Regions from separate parts of the Homo sapiens genome. Here region 1 is linked to region 2. The links come from fine-mapping of genetic effects on gene expression. A gene starts in region 2. The other region holds a variant in brackets. All regions are shown on one strand. Distances are between the middles of the regions.

Evidence for each region. PIP is the estimated chance that this variant, and not a neighbour inherited with it, causes the effect.
Region 1: its variant is the best candidate, but not a certain one, in a credible set for the expression of AQP11 in anterior cingulate cortex (GTEx, PIP 0.69).

What each region holds. Positions count from the first base shown.
Region 1 is chr11:77,525,638-77,531,017 of GRCh38, reverse strand. It overlaps a transcript of PAK1 not described here. Among named protein-coding and RNA genes, the nearest start is that of LINC03030, 43 kb to the left of the region's middle. RefSeq lists a silencer at 5,180-5,380. The variant A/G (reference allele first, on the strand shown) is at 3,204.
Region 2 is chr11:77,587,238-77,592,617 of GRCh38, reverse strand. It overlaps AQP11 (aquaporin 11), which reads right to left and starts at 2,665. Exons shown (of 3, transcript NM_173039.3): 1 at 2,007-2,665. The coding sequence starts at 2,625. RefSeq lists a silencer at 2,689-3,318.

The DNA of each region.
Region 1 (5,380 bases), 62 kb after region 2:
ACAAATTGCCTTGCACAAAAGGAAATGGGAATTGGCAATAAGTGCTTTGGAGTTTACAGCCAGATTAAATCTGGAAAATGAAAAGGGGAGGAAGGGAAGAGGGGGAGAGGGTGGGCAGCTGGTGGAGGCATGGCCAGTGAGAATTGTCCAATGCCAGGAATGACTGGTGGACTCTTAAAAGAACTGTGAATACTTGGTTTCAAGATGTTCTCTGAGCTTCAATATAAGCTAGCCCCTCTAGCCCCCAAATCTTTCCTCAAAGTTTGCTAAACACACAACCGTATTTAGGCCATCTTTTGGGGAGAGAAGAGGTTGAGCAAGTGTCCAACAGGGTGATGTGTTGTAGAAGAAAGGGCAAGGTGCGCAGGAAGTATGAGGGGTGGAGATCAAGGCAGAAAATCAGAGGTAGAGGTGATCAAAAGAAACATACCTCTGGCTCAATATGAGACCCTTCAGAGATATCGGTAGGGACTTGGGTTTCATGACATTCATAGGATAGGGGTTTGAGCAGGATTCTTTTATATCTCAAAGGTTGGGGAGACTCCAGAAGGTTGGAGGACCTTGTGAAATATATGGGGGTTGGGTGACATGCTGAGGTGAGGAGAGGGAGAAGCCTTGGAAAATTGTTTAGAAGAATACACAGCATAAAAAATTTACCCATGATGCTAAGATGATAGCAATATTTATTTTTCTTTCTGTTCATCTCTATCTTGATTCTTCTATAATAAATCCATTTTACTTGAATAAATTTTAAAAAGAAAATATACTGAGTGGATAGATCAATCCACAGGTATAGAAAGCTGTCTGGTTGTTATCAGGAGCTGAGGGGAGAGGGGAAAGGGGAGTAATTGCTTAATGGGTATAGACTTTCCTTTTAGCATGATGCAAATGTTTTAGAACTGGATAGAGGTGGTGGTTGCACAACATTATGAATGTACTCAATGCCACTGAATTTTCACCTTAAAAAAGTTAATTTTATGTTATGTGAATTTCACCCCAATAGGAAAAAGGAGGAAAAAAATGTACTGGGGAACAAGACAAGATCAATCAGACTCTGCCACTCTTCTGCTGTAAGTCCTTCAGAGCCATCCTAACTCTTTGGCCTGGCTCCTCATGGCCTATCCCTGTCACTGCTCCAGCACAGCTACCTCTCCCTATAAACCTTGCTCTCCCAGTCATTCAAAACCATGTGCAGTGCTCTGAAAAGGCCTATTCTTTTCCGTCTTCTTGCCTTTGTATGGGTTTTTTCTTTTCTTGGAATGCCCTCCCCTTACTTTCTGCTCATCCTTCAAAACTCTGCTAAACATCTTCTCCTTTGAGATGCTGTCCCTGATTCTGTAGTCTGGGAGTGTCTCTTTCCTGCATTCCAAGAGCCTTCTGGGCATTTCTCTGTTACATGTAGGTGATTGTGAACCCCTGGAGAACAGAACCCAGGCCTTCCCCTTTGTTTACCTTCAGAACTTGGCTCAGGACAAAAGCTACAAGGAATGTGGAAAAAATAAGAATAGACATAGAATCACTGAGACTAAAATAACATCTTTTTCTAATGTAAAAGGTTGCCCTGGGCATGAAGTTTAAAAGGACTCAAAGATGTTGAAGTGGCTTACTGAGGCATATATCAAGACTGGTGATATAATATCTTTCCTCTGTCCCCTCCTGCCTTCTTCCTTTTTATGAATTATTTAGAGATTGCAGCATAGATAAAAATTCCAAATAGATTAATAAAAATGTGACTCTAAGTAGCAAAATGATTCTAAATGGGCCTTATGAGGTGGCAGAATGCTGATAGTCTTAGGAAAATAAGGCTAAAAGCTCAATGATTCTTGTGTAAATACACAATAGGTCATAAAATGTATATTTTTGAGACCTACATCCCATCTCAGGATGGTGTTTAAAAATACCTGTCTTGCGGGATTAAAAATGAACTTAATCCCTAACAAAATAACAGATCTAGGCAAAAATCATCAGTGGTTGCTAAAATTATTAGGTGAATGGTTGATAAGAAACTTTGCAATAGATAGATGAGGCTGACAACCTTTGAACCTACTGTACCACCTTTGCATTATTAACAGTGGGACAGCCAGACATTAATTGCCTCCTGATATGATGTAGTAGGAAGTATACAACACCAATTAAGAAATATTCTTGCCAAAATAATTGAACCTGAATTTAACAATTTTCTAACCACTGGTTTGTGAGAAATATGAAAAACCGAGAAGCATGCAAATTGACACCATAAGGATATAAAACATCAAATAAAAAAGATGGGAAATTCTCCAAGACACATGACTCAATTTCTTCAAGAAATAAATGGTATGAAGAAAAAGGGAGCTGGAAAAGTACAGATTCAAGAAGACTTGAAGACTTAAGACAGGTTGGGTGTGGTGGCTGATGCCTGTAATCCTAGCACTTTGGGAGGCCTAGGTGGGAGGATTGCTTGAGGCCAGAAATTTGAGACCAGTCTGCTCAACATAGCAAGGCTTCATCTCTACCAAAAGTTTAAAAATTAGCCAGGCGTGATGGCATGTGCCTGAGGACGCCGAGGTGGGAGAATCACTTGAGCCCAGAAGTTTGAGGCTGCAGTGAGCTATGATTGTGCCACTGCATTCCAGCCTGGGCAACAGAGGAAGACCCCATCTCTTAAAAAAAAAAAAAGAGACATATGTAACACATACAAACAAAAAAAAAAGTTATTTTTTGGAGATAATGTAGGAAAATTACGTGGATTGGATATTAGATAATATTAAGGAATTACTGTTAAATTTATTATGTGTGATAATGGTATTGTGGCTATGTTTTCTTAAGTTCTTATTTTTAGAGATTGAAATATTGATGATGAAATGATAAACCTTGAATTTACTTTAAAATGCTCTCCCAAAAATGTGTTTGTGGGGATAGGCTGGGTGGGGTGGCCCATGACTGTAGGATTGCTTGAGCCCAGGAGTTCGAGACCAGCCTAAGCAGAATAGTGAGATTCCGTCTCTACAAAAAATAGAAAAAATTAGCTGGGCATGGTGGCACTCGCCTGTAGTCCCAGCTACTTGGGAGGCTGAGGTGGGAGGATCACTTGAGCCTGAGAGGTTGAGGCTCCAGTGAGCTGTGATTGAGCTACTGCATGCACTCCAGCCTGGGTGACAGAGCGAGACCCTGTCTCAAAAAGAAAAAAAAAAGTATTTGTGGGGATAGATAAAACAATGATGCAG[A/G]GTATTAATAATTATTGACTCTGGGTGATAATGAACACATGGATTCATTACACTTTTCCTTTTTGTGTATAAAATTTTCCGTAAGTTTCTAAAAATAAACCTAACATTCAGTGGCAATGTAGTAATGTTAATAAGCCCATCTGCTGAGCCAGGACTATATCATATGAGAGCATTGTCAGACCAATGGAAAGATCTTGGCTTTGGAATCAGAAAGGTGTGAGTTTGAACCCTAGGTCTGCTACTTACTACCTCTATTACCTTGGACAAGTTACTTCTCTGAATCTGTTTTCTCACTCATAAATAGGGATAACATTACCTACATCAGAAGATTGGAGGGACATGTGAGGTGATCTATATAAAGTATCTATCATGTGCCTGGCACAAAATAAATGCTCTATAAATTAATGACCCAGGCCCAGTACGGTGGCACAGGCCTGTAATCCCAACACTTTGAGAGGCTGAGGTGGGCAGATTACTTGAGCTTAGGAGTTAGAGACCAGCCTGGGCAAAATGGTGAATCCCCATCACTACAAAAAATACAAAAATTAGCCCAGTGTGATGGTGCACACCTGTCATCCCAGCTACTCAGGAGGCTGAGATGGGAGGATTCCTTGAGCCTGGGAGGCGGAGGTTGCAGTGAGCCGAGATCATGCCACTGGATGCCAGCCTGGGCAACAGAGTGAGAACCCGTCTCGAAAGAATAAAGAAAATAAAAAATAAATTAACTACCTTATACCAATCCACTTATTCTTAATTTCCTTTATTGGTTTTTACAATAGATTTAAATAATCCAGAGTGTATGAAACAGAGTGAAATTTCCCCTCACCACACTCCCCAGTCTCACTCTCCAGAAAAAGGAGGCTTTAGCATGTATCTTTCCAGCCCTTTTTTTTTTTTTTGCGATGGAGTCTCACTCTGTCGCCTAGGCTGGACTGCAGTGGTGTGATCTTGGCTCACTGCAACTTCCACCTCCTGGGTTCAAGCAATTCTCCTGCCTCAGCCTCCTGAGTAGCTGGGATTACAGGTGCATGCCACTACACCCAGTTAATTTTTGTATTCTTAGTAGAGACCGGGTTTCACCATGTTGGTCAGGCTGGTCTTGAACTCCTGACCTCGTGATCCGCCCACCTCAGCCTCCCAAAGTGCTGGGATTACAGGCGTGAGCCACCACACCTGGCCTCCAGCCTTTTTCTTTATGTCTATAAATATACACAGGTATATGCAACCACATGTGGTGTTTTTTAACAAAAATGAAACCACACATATAATATTGTTCTGCATTTTACTTTTTCCACATTACAATACATATCTTTTTATGTCATTTCATATGATTCTACAGTTATAATTCAATAAACAATGTTACTCTTATGCCTTTGCTCCCTGGTGTATTTCTGTGAGCTAGAATCCTAGAGCAGAGTTGTTGGATGGAAGGCTATGTGTCATGTATCTTTTGTCAATACTACAAAATGGTCCTAATGTCCCTCCACACGTTATTTGGTTATTTTCACCTCAATTAAGATCTCAACATTATCAATTTTCCATACATTTCTAAGTTGCATTACTGTCTTTCTGGGTACCACTTCTCAATTGGCCATGAAAAGGTGTCAAAGAATAAATGCGTTAGATTAGCAAAAATCAGCCTCATGGAAAATAGTCAAGCTCCATCCTGCTATTTGTCCCTGTTAGAGAATAATAGGCTGCCTGCTGTTTTCAAGGCTGGATGTAGTGGTGGATTGGATAAAATAAATGAGAGTCCTAGTTTTCTTTGTGAAGAGCTAGTGAAGATTATGTGAAGCAGGATTCTGAAAGAAAGCAGGGGAATAAAACCTCCTCTCCAAAGAGGTCCCAGCGGATGGCAACAGTGCAAAGGTAGACAAAGAAAGAAAGGGGAAGGAAGTGCCACTTTGATTCCCTGGGGAGTTCAAGATCTCACTTTTCCCTCCTGTTGTTCTAGTGACTTTTAGAAAGGACAATTCCAGAGAAAGATGGTTTCAAAAAGAAAAGAAACCCAAACTGAATCCAATTCTGCCTTACTTATGTAAGAGCACCTGTCATGTGGTGTACAATTGGTCCCAGGCAGACGCCTGAGAAAGATCACTTTGTAAACCACCCTTCTGTCGAGGGAAGGCCAACAATTGTCCTTTGTCTATGGAGCCCTCCCATCATCTCACTATGCT
Region 2 (5,380 bases):
ATACAGTATTATCTATGGAATCATAAATATGTATTAAAAGTAGACAGAAAGAATATCAACTTCAGGTTAATCAAGAGAGGGAAGAGGAACATAGGTATTGAAAAATCCAACTGTAGTTAATGTTCTATTGATGTAAAAATTCTTTTTTAAGTTTTTACTGCTTTTAATTGTAGAAATAAAGAGCTAAACCATAGCATAACTCTTTTTGCAGTGACAATTCTGTTCATATACAGGGGATGTTTCTGCTTTAGCTAAAATCTAAAACTTCAATAAATAAGCAACTACCCACCAATCCCTCAAATATGCCTGTACTTGTCACTCTTTTTCTCTTTTTCTTTTTTTTTTTCTTTTGAGACAGACAGGGTCTCTATAACCCAGGCTGGAGTGCAGTGGCACTATCACAGCTCACCACAATCTCAACCTCCTGGACTTGGGTGATCCTCCCACCTTAGCCTCCCAAGTAGTTGGGACTACAAGTGCGCACCAGCACGCCCGGCTAATTTTTGTATTTTTTGGAGAGATGGGATTTCTCTTATGTTGCCCAGGCTAGTCTCGAACGCCTGGGCTCAAGCGATCCACCTGCCTTGGCCTCCCAAAGTGTTGGGATGACAGGTGTGAGCCACCGTGCCCGGCCCCCTTCACTCTTCTATACCACTTATTTCCATTTATGTCTACTTAAAAAGTGGTACTAGACCTAAAGAAGGGGAAATTGATTGGGAAGGCTTGCTTTCTTTCTTTTTTTTGAGACAGAGTCTCACTGTTGTCGCCTGGGCTGGAGTAAAATGGCGCGATCTCAGCTCACTGCAACCTCCGCCTCCCGGGTTCCAGCAATTCTCCCGCCTCAGATTCCCGAGTAGCTGAGATTACAGGCGCCCACCACCATGCCTGGCTAAATTTTTTTTGTATTTTTAGTAGAGACGGGGTTTCACCATGTTGGCGAGGCTGGTCTCAAACTCCTGACCTCAGGTGATCCACCCACCTCGGTCTCCCAAAGTGCTGGGATTACAGGCGTGAGCCACCGCGCCCGGCTGAAGGCTTTCATTTTTACCCTAGAAGGTCAAGTACGTGTTTAGGAGTCCTTATCTTGAAGTTTGCTTCTAGTCATTGTTTCACTTTTAATGGGCAGAAGATTATTACCACAAATTTCCTTTGTTGTTATTTCTGCCTCCACAGTCTTTTATAATTTAGATGTAGTCCCAATAAAGATATTCTGTTGTAATCATTTAAAATGACACATTTCATCATTAAATACTTGTGTTTTGGATTTCCTCCTCCCACTTAGGACTAGATTGCCCACTGCATCTGAGATCTGTCAAAGTAAACAAATGGTTTAAAAGAAATCAACAGATTTCTCAAGAGTTATATTTTAAAAAGCATCTTTAATTTGAAGCAAGTTATCATTTAAACATTTTTCTTAATAGGTCACTTAAAAGTTCATGTATAACTCAAAATGAATTATTAAGGAAATAAGAAATTTCATAACTCAAAATGAATTATTAAGGAAATAAGAAATGACTTTAAATCATTTATAGGACTAAAATGGAACTACAAAATTTCTACCCTCCGCTCTTATACTAACCAATCATGTGCCTTGTGCTTTAAATCGAAAGGAACTTTGTAAAGCCAGGATCATTTTTCAGTAAGAGTATCCGAAACGATCTATACCACCTTGGCATGAAGAAAGAGGCAGTTAATAAGTTATCTTTCCTTTCTACCATTAAAACAATCCCTTTGTAGGATATCTGAACCCTTGGCAATATCTCACAGTATCTCAGTTTCAGCACAGAGGTGGCTCCTTTCTCTGGGTGTTCAAAGCAGCACTGCATGAAGGCTCTACGTGTCGGCCCTACTGGTTAAGAACGGGCTGCAAAATGGTTAGAATAACGGGGATACCAGCATTTACATCATAGCGGGATAGACGGTTTCAAATGTATTTTAGTAAAGAACTTACAGCCTCATGTCATAGAGGCTCTGGAAGTGCCAAGTATTTGGTGAGAATGACAAACCTGCATAGACCAAAAAGGTGATGAGTGCAGCCAGCAGGTGGATACGAAGCTTGGTTCGGACTTCCTGGAAGTGCAGCAGAGCGCTGTGGAAGAGAAAGGAGCAGACGGCCTCTGTGATGACCGCTTTGAGCAAGTCGACTCGGATGGGATTCTTGCAAGCGAAGCTCCTCTCGCTGACGTGATACTGGGTCAGACCCAAGCTCCACAAGGCGCTTGTGCAGTACCTGCTGCACAGGGCACTAACCAGCTGAGCCAATAGCCTCACCGCACCCGTCTCGGGGGACATGCCCCCCAGCATCATCTGCATCATCACGCCGCACGGGTTGCTGGACGTGCCCACCAGAGTCAGGCCATGCACAAGCGAGAAGAAGTAGACGAGCGTCAGCGTCCAGGTGGGGTGCGCGGGGTGCTGTTCGCTCAGCAGTTGCAGCTCGTGGGTGCAGCAGCAGAGCTGGAAGGTGGCTAGAAACTCCAGGACGAAGGCGTGGGCCACCGGCCTGTGCAGCTGCTGCCGGGCGACTACGCGGGCCAGCCCCATGAGCAGCACCACCGACAGCATCAGTCCCAGCGAGGTGCAGGTGTCCTGCAGCTCGGACCGGAGCCCCAGCAGCGGCGACATGGCTCCGTCGCCGCCTGAGCGGGTTGCGGGCTCCGGCTCTGGGTAGGAGGCGGTCTCCAGGCCCGAGTCCGAAGTCCGCAGCCCCTCCCCTCCTCACGCCCCTCGGGGCGGGACGAGCGGGAGGCTCCCGAGCGGCACACTTAAGAAGTCCTCCCCGCCTCCCCGGCTTGGCGCTGGGGTGTTGGAACCAGAGCCGAGGAGGCGGGGAGGCGGGGAGGCGGGGAGGCGCGGGGAGGCGCGGGGAGGCGAAGGGAGGTAGCCTAGGGCGCCGGCCGCAGGGCCAACGGTCAGCCGAGCCCACCGCGCACTCACCCTCCGCAGTCTCCCTCAGGGCCTTGTAGGCGGGCGCGGCGGCGGAGGGCCGGCGCGGCGCGGTCGACGCAGCGCTCTTGGTGCCCACTGCGCACGCGTGCTGCGGCCCTTGCGCCCCTGCGGGCGGTGACACCCGGACCACGGGGCGGAGAGGAGCGGCACGGCGCGGCGGAGCTCTGATGGTTGCTTTGCAGCGAGGACCTTAGAGTTTTTCTTTCCCCGCTCCACACTGTAAAACCGTGGAGCTGGAAAGACCGCTGAAGGCCATCTCACATAGCCACCTCGTTTTTATCAATGGGCGACTGAAATTGAGAGGGGAGACGCGGCGCAGGGGGCGGGTGAGTTAGTGGGCGTAGACCGGTGCGCAGGGCCTCCTGGAGCCTTGCTTTTCTTCACCTGCCAAAAAACATTTCTAAAAATGGTGGTAATATATGCCAGATAAAATTCGCCACTTTAATCAATTTAAGTGTATATTTCAGTGGCATCGATTACCCTCACAGTGTTGTTCAACAGTCACCTCTTTTTTCCAGAACTTGAGCGGTGATTCTTCAAAGTGTAGCCTAGTTTTAGCATGTGACTGTCTATAACCTTTGGCATGAACTCTTTACGTATAATATGAAACAGTTGTGTCTTACTGTTACATGCACTCTTCGTGAAGAGGAAACAACAGGTAACTGGAGAGGTCTGTTTCCAAGAACTGGGGGTCCTGGCGCACCTCTTCCATCTGCTTTGAAAGCAGGAATACGGCTGCGTGAGGTGGAGCGCGTCCGGAGTCCCAGCACGGAGAGGCTTAGGTGGGAAGACCGCTTGACCCCAGGAGTTCCAGGCTGCAGTGAGCTGAGATCGCGCCACTGCACCCCTGCCTGGGCCACAGAGCGAGACGCTGTTTTTAGAAACAAAAACAACAACAAAAACCGGGCGCGGCTGGGCGCGGTGGCTCACGCCTATAATCCCAGCACTTTGGGAGGCCGAGGCGGGCGGATCACCGGAGGTCGGGAGTTCGAGACTAGCCTGACCAACATGAGAAACCCCCGTCTCTACTAAAAATACAAAATTAGCCGGGCATGGTGGCGCATGCCTGTCATCCCAGCTACTCGGGAGGATGATGCAGGAGAATCGCTTGAACCCGGGAGGCAGAGGTTGTGGTGAGCCTAGATCGCGCCATTGTACTCCAGCCTGGGCAACAAGAGCGAAACTCCGTCTCAAAAACAACAACAACAACAACAACAACAACAACAAACCAGTCAAACAAACAAAAAACAAAACATGAAAGCCACTTAGTACAGTTCCCAATACGTAGAAAATATTCACTAAGTGGTAGCTTACAGTGGAAACAGCAGGTTTCAGCAGCCAGAGTGCACGGCTCTTGCCACCGCATTCCAGTCCCAACAGCTTGTCCCCTGGGGTGGCCCATTGTAGGTGCAGCACTTTGGGAGTCCGAGGCAGGCGGATAACGAGGTCAGGAGTTCAAGACCAGCCTGGCCAACATAGTGAAACCCCGTCTCTACTAGAAATACAAAAATTAGCTGGGCATGGTGGTGCGCACATGTAGTCCCAGCTACTCGGGAGGCTGAGGCAAGAGAATCCCTTGAACCCGGGAGGTGGAGGTTGCAGTGAGCCAAGACAGTGCCACTGCACTCCAGTTTGAGCAACAGAGTGAGACTTCGTCTAAAAAAAAAAAAAATTCTTTCACAAGACACAAACTAGTAGAAAATCAAGACCTTTTCTCTTTCCTGTGTTGATTGCCTGGCCAGAAAGAATTTAAATTAGAATTATTTATTATTATTATTTTTTTAAGACAGAGTCTCGCTCTGTCTCCCAGACTGGAGTGTAATGGCGTGATCTCAGCTCACTGCAACTTCTGCTCCCGGGTTCACGCCATTCTCCTGCCTCAGCCTCCCGAGTAGCTGGGACTACAGGCGCCTGCCACCACACCTGGCTTTTTTTTTTTTTTTTTTTTTTTTTTTTTTTTTTTTTTTGTATTTTTTAGCAGAGATGGCGTTTCACTGTGTTAGCCAGGATGATCTTGATCTCCTGACCTTGTGATCTGCCCGCCTCGGCCTCCCAAAGTGCTGGGATTACAGGCGTGAGCCACCGCGCCCGGCAATTAGAATTACTTTTAAGTCACTGCTGTTTAAAGAAGTTGCCTTTAAATCAATCCTATGAATGTAACCCTTTCAGTGCTCCCCTAGACTTGAAGTCACTTGAGGATTAATGTGAATGTATTTTATTTACTGCTCTGCTGATAATTCACTTTTACCCGGAAGAGTCATGTAGAAAACCAGTGTTTTGGACTTTGGTAAGAAATTTTAGTATCGTGGTAATACATATTGTCATTAAAAGGACTTTGGACATTTTTTAAATTAAAGAACAAGGGCAAAATTAACATAATTAATTACTACTGATTGGATATTTTGCATCAAATCAACCTTCCTATTTTCAG